Regions from separate parts of the Homo sapiens genome. Here region 2 is linked to region 1. The links come from fine-mapping of genetic effects on gene expression. A gene starts in region 1. The other region holds a variant in brackets. All regions are shown on one strand. Distances are from middle to middle. Region 1 holds the start of REXO1 (RNA exonuclease 1 homolog). Region 2 holds the start of LOC100288123 (a long non-coding RNA gene).

Region 1 (5,360 bases):
TTTTATTTTTTCGAGACACTGTCTCACTCTGTCACCCAGGCTGGAGTGCAGTGGTGCAATCTTGGCTCACTGCAACCTCCGCCTCCCAGGTTCAAGGGATTCTCCTGCCTCAGCCTCCCGAGTAGCTGGGATTACAGGCATGGGCCACCACACCCAGCTAATTTTTGTAATTTTAGTAGAGATGGGGTTTCACCATGTTAGTCAGGCTGGTCTCGAACTCCTGACCTCAAGTGATCTGCCTGCCTCAGCCTCCCAAAGTGCTGGGATTACAGGCGAGAGGCACCATGCCTGGCCCCTAATTTTCTGTAAAACCGCACAAATCCCGCCTTCCCCATAGAATCACCCAGACCAGCCCTGTGCCCAGTCCAGGCTCTTCTCCTGTTTCTGTTCTCAAAGCACTTTCCACCTGGCTTCAGGCTGTCTCACTTATTGCTGTGTTCATTGTCGGCCTCCCTGCCTACACCATCACCTCCACCAGAGTGGGGTTCTCTGCTCTGCTTATGGATGTTTCTAGCATTTTGTGGCACACAGTAGGTGCTCAGTAACTATTTGCTGAATGAATGACCGACACCAGCCGGCACGGATGGAGCAATCGCATAAATGAGAGTTCATCTCTCACGCATCATCAGGAGCCATGACAGGGAGTCTACGCCTCCACTGCCCATGATAGGACAGCTTTGAGATTAGATCAGGTCCTCTGCAGAGTCGCCCATGACCCATCCCAACCCACGTCCCCTCATCATTGCATCCTGTCATTTATTTATAATTGTGGTAAAATCACATGCACATAACATAAAATTTGTCATCTTAACCATTGTATTGTTATTTGAGACGGACTGTCACTCTGTCACCCAGGCTGGAGTGCAGTGGTGCAATCTTGGCTCACTGCAACCTCCGCTTCCCAGGTTCAAGTGATTCTCCTGCTTCAGCCTCCCAAGTAGTTGGGACTACAGGCGCCCGCCACCACGCCCAGCTAATTTTTGTATTTTTAATAGAGGTGGGGTTTCGCCATCTTGGCCAGGCTGGTCTCAAACTCCTGACCTCGGTTGATCTTCCCTCCTCGGCCTCCCAAAGAGCTGGGATTACAGGCGTGAGCCATCGCGCCCAGCTAATTTTTGTATTTTTAGTAGGACAGGGTTTTGCCATATTGGCCAAGCTGGTCTTGAAATCCTGGGCTCAAGTGATCCACCCGCCTCAGCCTCCCAGAGTGTTGGGATTACAGACATGAGCCACTGTGCCCGACCTAAGACTTTGCTTTCTATTCTTTTTGGGTGTATACCCAGGAATAGAGTTGCTCATAGGGTAATTCTGTTTAACTTTTTCCATCTCTACACAAAATACAAAAAATTAGCCAGGCATGATGGTGCACACCTGTGGTTTTAGCTACTCGGGAGGCTGAGGTGGGAGAATCACCTGAGCCAGGGAAGTCGAGGCTGCAGTGAGCCGTGATCGCACCACTGCTCTCCAGCCTGGGTGACAGAGCAAGACCCTGTCTCTTAAAAACAAACTTTTTGGGTTTTTTGTTTTACATAGCAGTGGCACTATTTTACAATCCCACCAAAATGCACCAGGTTAAACTTCCCATTAAGACGTGGGCCTACTCCACCAGACTACAGAGTTGCCCCATCCCAGCCTTGTTCCTCGTTTGTCTGTTAAAATGCACCCTCTAGCTGGTATACAGTAGGCGCTCAATATTTGTTGAACAAATGAGTGAACGTGGACCTGGTCATTAGACTGATGACAAGAGTCGAGGTTGGGGAGATTAAGGCGTTTCTTGAGAGCCAGCTGTATACCAGGGCGAGGGGATTTTTAAAGACTGTGAACGGAGTAATTCAACCATGAGTTTCACCTGGCCCAGGTTTAAGGCCACCTCCCCGCAGAACTCTCCTCGTCCAGCAGAGGGCGCCTTAAGGTGATATGCTAACGAAAGGAAATAATATGCAAATGAGTAATAGCGGGCCCCGCGGGGCTTTTTTGGTCAGGCGCGCCGTGGACAGCCCTGGCGCCGCAGGGGCCTGGGGCTCAAGATGGCGCCGCTACAGCCGCCGAAGGTCGGGCGGCGGCGCTGGCGAGGCTCCCGGAGACCGCAGGCAGGGCAGCCCCTGCCCTCCTTACTTCCTCCCGCGGCCGTCTGTCCCGGCCCAGGGGTCCGTCACCAGCCTTGGTCGCGCAGGAGCAGGCGTTTCTGAGCAGGCGCGCTGCGGGCAGCCCCTCCCGGGGTCCCTTGCGGCGGCGTCCCGAGGGCCTCCGGGGGCCTCGGAGCAAGATGGCGGCGGCGGGGTCCGTGAGGCGCGGGCGGCGGCGACCGCGGCGCCAGTGAGGGGGCCCTGGGGCCCGGGCGGCTCCGGGCCGGGGCCCCGCCGCGGGACGGACCATGCTACGCTCCACTGGCTTCTTCCGGGCCATTGACTGCCCCTATTGGTCTGGGGCGCCCGGGGGGCCCTGCCGGCGGCCCTACTGCCACTTCCGGCACCGCGGGGCCCGGGGCTCCGGCGCGCCCGGTGACGGCGGAGAGGCGCCCCCCGCAGCAGGTAATGCCCGCCCGCCTGCTTGCCTTGGGCTCGGCTCCCCTGCCCGGGTCTGGACCCCACCCCGGTCCCGCCCGGGGTCCCCGTTCTCGGCCCAGCCTCCTCCCCACACGTTCGCGGGCGACGGTTTTCCCAGTCGGGACCGGAACCACCCACCCTGGGACCCGGTGCAAAGCACTAGATGTCCCTAAGCCTTCGTCTTCACGAGTGTGAAATGTCAACTAGGAGGACGCGTCCTGCCAGGGCTGTCTAGAGGGCGGAGTGCGAGCGCATGTTGAGTACCGGGCACCGGGCCTGACACAAGGGGGCTCGGGAGACGGGCGCGGCCGGCGCTAGGCAGGTCCTGGACTCCTCCTGCCCCTGATTGGCGCCCGCCGCTTCCCGGACCCCATGTGCTTGTGGCCGCCCTTGTTTATTTCCATGACGTTTCCTCCGGCCGCGCCTCTGGCAGCGGCCACCTCAGTCTCCAGTCGTTGAGTTAGGATGGTCCGAGGATCGTCTCTTGTGTTTGTCGAGCCCTGTGTCCAGCATGACTGGCAGGGAGGAAGTCAAAGCTTACTCGAGTGGGCTCCGAGGAATTCCATGCTTTTGGTCGGGCAGAGGACGTTGGTGGACTCCACCTCACAGCGTCATGGTGGTTTTCATCGTCATGGCAGCGTTTCTTGGAGGAGATGTGGGATTTGGATTGGAGAAAAAGAGGGACATCGCAAGGAAAGTCGTGGAGGGAGGGTTATCGAGTGTGATGTCATTCAGACTCCCCTGTTACCTCTGTCCCTTGATAGTGGCTCTCTGCTTCACCCAGCCCCTGACTTCCTTCGTCCCAGATTTCCTCATTGGGCGTGAGTTTCAAGCACTGTTTTTACTTTAACCATGAAACAGTCTCAGCTCAGAACCTTTTCCTGCAAAAGAGAAACATCTTCTCTAGGATTTAAGAATAGGTTTATTTTCCTGTTTTGCCAGAAAAGGTAGCATTTTTTTCTGATTTCCCTGATAAGTGTGCTTGGGACACCTGCACCTGTGGGCGGTTGTTTGCAGGTGGACAGATGCAAGCAATCACTTGTCAGCTCCCCACAGCCCAGCGTCTTCGCTGTGTTTGAGGCGGGGGATTCAGAGCTGCGTACGATGCCGGCTGTGCTCTCAGGGACCTGCCGACAGCTGTGCCTACAGATCCCGTAGCATAGGTCGTGATGTCCTGGGAGCACGCAGCCGGCTTTGGCGGGGGCTGGGAGTTGGTGAAGAAGGCAACGCGTGGGAGAGGCTTCTCGGAGGCTGTGACACCAGACTCACGATGCTCATTTTAACCCTATTTTTAGAGACAGGGTCTCACTCTATAGTCCAGGCTGGAGTGCAGTGGTGCGATCACAGCTCTTTGAGGCCTCGACCTCCTGGGCTCAAGGGATCCTCCTGCCTGAACCTCCTGAGTAGCTGGGACTATGGGCGGCGGGTGCCACCAAGCCTGGCTAACTTTGTATGTTTTCGTGGAGATAGGGTCTCGCTATGTTGTCCAGGCTTGTCTCAAAACTCCTGGCCTCGAGCCGACCTCCTGCTTCGGCCTCCCAAAGTGCTGGGGTTACAGGTGTGAGCTACTGCACCCGGCGCAAGTCAGGCTTATGATATCTGTCTGCATCCCAAATGGCTCATTTGTTTCCCAAAGGCTTATTTTTGAGGGTCCCTTTGGTGATGTCGTCTTCCTGTCTGCCCCCCGTTCCTATGGGAAAAAGGCAGCTGCCTGCCTCTTACCATGGCGTGTCTGCATTTCCCTTTTGCTGGTGAGAATGAACTCCTTTTCCCATCTCTGGTGGGGTGGTAGGGCTTCTTGTTACTGTCTGGTAGAAGACTGCCTCCCCCCGCAGAAGGCAGGATCCATCTTCCTTGCGGTGAGGTTTCTCTGACCCTCTGTTTCCGCCTCCGTGACATGTTCATCAGGCTGCCCTCTGAGGACAGGGGGGGATGCATGTCCCATGTCCACACCTCCAGATTTACACACACCCAGTTTCCTATGAGATTTGAAGAGGCTGGCGTGATCTAGCCTTTGCCATGTCTTCTCAAGGGGATTTTAGGGTGCACAGGGCAGCGGCCTCCAGAGAGGAGATAGACAGGAACGCTGGCCTCCCAGGATTGAGAGTGGACAGAGGTTCAGGTGAAAAGCCCTCAGCTAGCCCTGGAGCACCTGTGGGGCCATGCTCTGTGCTGGACACGCGCTGCATGGTGACCCTGTGAGCTATTTGCTGCCGGTGGGGAAACGGAGGCTTATCGAGGAACGTGTTTTGCCCATACTACCACCTGGCCAGGGCAGGGCTGGAGCCTCCAGGGCCTCTGGGAGAAGGAGAGGGCATCTGATGAGGGCACCAAGGCAGGCAGGGTTGGGAGGCTTGGCGGAGCTGCGACGGGAACAGGAAGGTGGCTGGTGCTCCTGGGCCCTGGGTCACAGGCTCAGCGGGTCATTGGCGACCTTGAGCAGCACTGCTGAAGGACTCAGGTTTCCTTCTGGGCTCTTATCCCTGGACCTGCTCAGCCATTTTATTTAATGAATTAATTTTTGAGACAGGGTCTCACTTTATCACCCAGGCTGGAGTGCAGTGGTGCGATCACAGCTTACTGCAGCCTCGACCTCCTGGACTCAAGGGATCCACCTGGCTCAGCCTCCTGACTAGCTGAGACCACAGGCATGTGACATCACACCTCGCTAATGTTTAAAATTTTTGCCGAGACGGGGTCTCACTTTGTTGCCCATGCTGGTCTTGAGCTCCTGGACTCAAGCGATCCTCTCTCCTCAGCCTCCTGAAGTGCTGGGATGACAGGCGTGAAGCACCGCGCTGGGCTGCACAGCCA
Region 2 (5,360 bases), 25 kb after region 1:
TGGGGCCCTGGGTGCCCAGGAGAGGTAGCCTTGGGCATCTGCAGAACGTGTGACACCTGCCCACCCCTCCGACTGCACCCACACAAAGCCCAGGGACTGTTGGCCCTGAGCCCTCAGCTGCTGTGCCTGGGGGCTGGACTGTTCCATTCCCCACTTGCCGGGGGCAGTTTGAGGTTGGGGTGTGTTGGTGTTGGCAGCGAGGGCAGACCTGTGCTGACGGACGGACATGTGTCTTAGCCCCCCAAGGAAGAGAAGAGTGAGGAGAAGGGGCTTTCGGGTCTGACCACTCTGTTCCCCGGGCAGAAGAGGAGGATCTCCCACCTTTCCAAGCAAGGCCAGGAGGTAAGGTCCGCAGAGGCCAGGCCAGCAGGAGCCTTTTTTTTTTTTTTTTTTAAAGACGAGGTTGGCCTGGTTTGGTGGCTCACGCCTGTAATCCCAGCACTTTGGGAGGCCAAGGCGGGTGGATCACCTGAGGCCAGGAGTTCGAGACCAGCCTGGCCAGCATGGCAAAACCCCATCTGTACTAAAAATACAAAAATTAGCTGGGCATGGTGATGGGTGCCTGTAATACCAGCTACTAGAGAGGCTGAGGCAGGAGAATCGCTTGAACTCAGGAGGCAGAGGTTACAGTGAGCCAAGATTGCACCACTGCACTCCAGCCTGGGTGATAGAGCAAGACTCTGTCTCAAAAAAAAAAAATTATAAAAAAAGGGGGTCTTGCTTTGTCACCCAGGCTGGTCTTCCAACTCCTGACCTCAAGTGATCCTCCTGCCTCGGCTTCCCAGCGTTGGGATTACAGGCGTGAGCCACTGCTCCCAGCTTCATCCCTCTGTTTTCTGTTTGTTTGTTTTTTGGTTGTTTTTTTTTTTTTTTTTTTTTTTGAGACGGAGTCTCGCTCTGTTACCCAGGCTGGAGTGCAGTGGCACGATCTCTGCTCACTGCAACTTCCGCCTCCCGGGCTTAAGTGATTTTCCTGCTTCAGCCTCCCGAGTACCTGGGATTACAGGTGCCCACCACCACACCAGGCTAATTTTTGTATCTTTAGTAGAGACGGGGTTTCACCATGTTGGCCAGACTGGTCTCGTGATCTGCCTACCTCGGCCTCCCAAAATGCTGGGATTACAAGCATGAGGCACTGCGCCCAGAGGTGGGCAGATCACGAGGTCAGGAGTTCGAGACCAGCCTGGCCAACATGGTGAAACCCCGTCTCTACTAAAGATACAAAATATTAGCTGGGCGCGGTGGCACGCACCTGTAATCCCAGCTACTCGGGAGGCTGAGGCAGGAGAATTGCTTGAACCCGGGAGGTGGAGGATTCAATGAGCCAAGATCGTGCCATTGCGCTCCAGCCTGGGCGACAAGGCAAGACTCTGTCTCAAAAAGATAAATACATAAAATGAGTTATCCATTCATAAACTTCTGATTTCTTTGGGACATTGTTCCTGTAAATCTGTGACGCTTTTTGTAAAGCATCAGTGATTTCCCCATTCGTTCTTCCACCCAAGTTTTACCATAAATTTGATGCTTAACATTTGCTTCAATTTTAGCAGAACTCCTGTTGCTCTGACTGGGGCTCTGTTCTAACTGATGTCTTACTTTTTTTTAGTGCCTCAAACTCCGTCTGGTTCAGACATGTTATGACAAGTTAGTATCAGTTTATTTTGGGGCAAAAAAACTTGAAAGCCATGCAAGTTTCGTCACAACGCACGTTTTCCATGAGCTTTTTGAAGACACCTTATCTTTGACGCTGCCCGAGTTCCAGAGGGAGCTGGCCCTGCCCCTTCCTGTTAGATTGCCACGGTGCTGGGGCGAGGGACAGAGCAGGTCAGCAGCCCCAGGGTGACCTCCCCCAGAGTGCGGCAGACGGCCTGCTGCGCCGTGTGCGGCCTGGGCCTGGGCCGGTTGTCCAGCTCTGAGCTCCAGTGTCCTCTGTAGCCCGGAGACAGTAGCGCTTGTCAGGCCCCTGTGCAGACGTGGCGAGGTAGTGCAGGACAAGCAGAGAGCCTGGCTCCGGGGTCAGCAGCCAGGAGAGTCCCAGTTGCTCCAGTCCCAGAGCCTCCCCAGAGGAGGGGCTTTGAGGAAGATTAGGCGTAGTGGGATTGGATTGGAGTGCCAGTGTAATCGGGGTAGTCCCGCCCACCCGTGCCTTATCAGGGCTGAGGACATAGCCTGGGCACCGGGAGACACTGGGAGTGGGGGAGCCTGGAGCCACATGGCATTGAGGACCACTGCCCCCTGCTGCTTCCCCCCAGTGTGCCCAGCAGCTCAGAAGGCAGCCAGGGAGGTGGTGCCTCCGGCCCCCGAGCTCCAGCCACCCTCTCCCAAGCCTGCCCGGGGTCGCCTGCTCCAGGTGCCCCCGCTGTGCTGCCAGGCCTTAGCATTTGTGGTGACGCAGGTGGAGCCCCCGAGGAGGGGTCCC[G/A]CGGTGCCCCCGGCCCGGCCCCCGACGGCGCAGGAGGTGTGCTACCTGCGGGCCCAGCAGGCGCAGAGGGCATCGGCGAGCTTGCTGCAGGCCCCCGCCAGGCTGGCAGAGAAGTCGCCCTCCGTCCACATTTCCGCCCCTGGCGAGAAGAGGAGGATCGCCCACATCCCCAACCCCCGCCTGGCTGCAGGTGAGTCCTGGCCCAGGGGGCCTGTGCCGGGGGGCCGTGGGCATGTGGGCAGGAGAGGTGGCACCCTGAGGTCTCTGAGCTCACCTGAACCACATGGTGCTTGCTCATGGGATGACTTTGGGCCCCCTCCCTGGGGCCCTCAGCCTGCCTGTCTGTGAAATGGGGACTGTTGAGGGGTGCAGGAGGCCTGGCCCAGCACCTTCCTTCCCTGACCCAGCTCCGGGGTTACTAGGAGTCCAACAGCCTGCTGGGGACTGGGCTGAACCAGGGCCTGAGCCTGTGGTTCCAGGGAATGGGGAGCCATGTCGGGGTACCTGGCATTGGGTGGGGAGCAGGCTTCTGCAGGTGTGGCTTTCTCCTGGCGTGTGAGTGGGGGGCGTGGCCTCTGATGGAAATGAGTGCTGTCTTCCCAGGAGTGGGGCTGTATTTCCTTTACTCCGAGGGGCACTTCCCCCCCAGCAGGGTCTTGTAGAAAGTCGGGCCAGGCCTCAGTGGTGGGTGGACAGGACCCTTCACGGGGGGTTGTCCTGTCTCCTGCGTCTTCACATCAGTGGTGTCTGTAGAGCGAGAAAGTATCCCTGGAGGCAGGTCACAGATGAGGGTCCCCCAGAAAGCTCCTAAAAAATGCAGGTTCTGGTCTGGAGGCTGGGAAAGGTCTGTGTGTCTGGCAAGCTCCCTGGGAGGGCATGGCTGCTGTCCGAGGACCACCCTGAGCAGCCTGCTGGTTTGGAGCCCCTGCCTCCCTGGCGCTGGCTGGAGAGCCTTAGGGCCAGCCCCGGCGATTCCCCTGCAGATCCCATGGATCCCACGGCCCTCCTTAGGGAGAGCTCTCCAGGCTACTCTGACCTCCCCTCCCCAGAGCCCCCTCACGGCTGAGACCTTAGCCCCAGGGAGGGGAAATCATTGAGTTGGGCCTATCCCAGGACCCCACACGCTTCCCGTCTGTGTCTCCGCGCTCGGGTTGTCCTGTTGCTGATCTGTGGTGGGTGCTGAGCTGTCGCAGTGCCCTTGGGGCCCGCCGCCTGAAGGGAGTCTGGCGTCCCAAGTGCTGGCAGTGCCGCAGGGCGGGCTCATCTGGCTTGGAGGACTCCTGTGGCTGCCTGGGCTCGCCCCCAGCGTGCAGCCGAGGGAGTCTGGAGGTTCTCTGTCCGTTCCTGAAGAGCAAACCCTCCACTGCAAGAGGCGCGTGCCAGCCTGGCGGGCAGCCTGCTTCCTTGCTGGGCGGCCCGCGGTAGCATGAGCAGACTCATCCTGCCTCCCTTGCACCTTCCAGGGCCAGATGGCATTTCGAGGGATGTTGCTCTGAGACTAGGGCCAGATGTCCCTGCTCACAGCTCCCCTTCCTGGGTCGGTGCCGAGCCCCCAGTCCAGAAGCCCCCCTGCCACACAGACGTACATGCCCAGGTTGCAGCTGCCCGCGTGGCCAGCCCTCCGAAGCAGCCCCTGCAGGCCTGGCCTCCTCCCTCTGGTTTGTGACTTCATCAAAGGGCAAGGCAGAACACAGAGGCCGCAGGGCAGGGCAAAGCCAATGAGCAGGTGGGGGCACCCGAGACCCTTCGGTCCTCTGTCCGGGAGCCAGGGCCTTTCCCTCAGACATCGACGCCTTGGGCTTGGGGTCAGAACACGTGGCAGAGGCCTGGACCACCCCACCGGTGACGTGTCCTCAGCGGCCTCCGCAGCCTGACCTGTGTCCTCTGCCTCGATGGACTTGCCTGAAGGCAGCTAGAGCCTGATGCCATTGCGCAGCCCCAGCCCCTCACCCTGGCCCGGCCCCCTGCACGCGGAGATGCACGTGCTGCTGGCGCTGAGCGGCCGCGGCTGCCTGGTGCTCCGCCACGTGGTGATGGGCAGCCACTCGCCCTGTGCCCACACCCCCTGTGCCCCGCCAGCCCCCACAGGTGCCAAGAGGACCCTTGCGGCCAGCGGCAGCCAGTCCTCCAACGGCCCTGAGCCAGGTGGCCAGCAGCTGAAAACACGCACATTGTCGGGGATGGCGTCCAAGACTACCACCACCATCATCCCTAAGCGAATCGCCCACAGTCCATCCTTACAGGTAGCCCCTCCCATCTCGGCCAGGACCACCACCCCCAAGACCACGCCCTGAGGCCCGGCCACATGGGACCTGCGGAGGGCCAGCCTCGCCCCTGCCCTGCGGGCCTTCGTGCTCCACACCGCAGTACAGCCTTCACCTTCCCTCCCCATGCCTTGGTGTTTTTTTTTTTTTTTTGAGATGGAGTCTCGCTCTGTCGCCCAGGCTGGAGTGCAGTGGCACGATCTTGGCTCACTGCAAGCTCTGCTTCCTGGGTTCACGCCATTCTCTGGCCTCAGCCTCCTGAGTAGCTGGGACTACAGGCGCCCGCCACCACGCCTGGCTGTTTTTGTATTTTTAGTAGAAACGGGGTTTCACCATGTTAGCCAGGATGGTCTCGATCTTCTGACCTCGTGATCCACCCGCCTCGGCCTCCCAAAGTGCTGGGATTACAGGCGTGAGCCACCATGCCCGACCGCCCTGGCGGTGTTTTTTTGTTTTGTCTTGTTTTGTTTTTTTGGTTGGTTGGTGTTTTTTTTTTTTGTTTAGAGACAGGGTCTCTGTTGCCCAGGCTAGAGTGCAGGGGCGCAATCATGGCTCACTGCAACCTCGACCTCCTGGGCTCAAGTGATCCTTCCACCTCAGCCTCCTGAGTAGCTGGGACCACAAGCCGGTGTCATCACACCCCAGCTAATAATTTTGTTTTTTATTTTGTAGAGACA

The links. PIP is the estimated chance that this variant, and not a neighbour inherited with it, causes the effect.
Region 2: its variant is fine-mapped to the expression of REXO1 in whole blood (TOPMed, PIP above 0.99).

Annotation. Positions count from the first base shown.
Region 1 is chr19:1,845,373-1,850,732 of GRCh38, reverse strand. REXO1 (RNA exonuclease 1 homolog) reads left to right here and starts at 2,250. Exons shown (of 16, transcript NM_020695.4): 1 at 2,250-2,531. The coding sequence starts at 2,375. RefSeq lists enhancers at 1,783-1,862, 1,883-2,032 and a silencer at 2,053-2,522.
Region 2 is chr19:1,820,821-1,826,180 of GRCh38, reverse strand. It overlaps REXO1 (RNA exonuclease 1 homolog), which reads left to right. Exons shown (of 16, transcript NM_020695.4): 3 at 238-342; 4 at 2,396-2,609; 5 at 4,499-4,662. LOC100288123 (a long non-coding RNA gene) reads right to left here and starts at 4,092. Exons shown (of 4, transcript NR_152847.1): 1 at 3,489-4,092; 2 at 2,924-3,166; 3 at 2,465-2,558; 4 at 1,636-2,072. The variant G/A (reference allele first, on the strand shown) is at 2,420.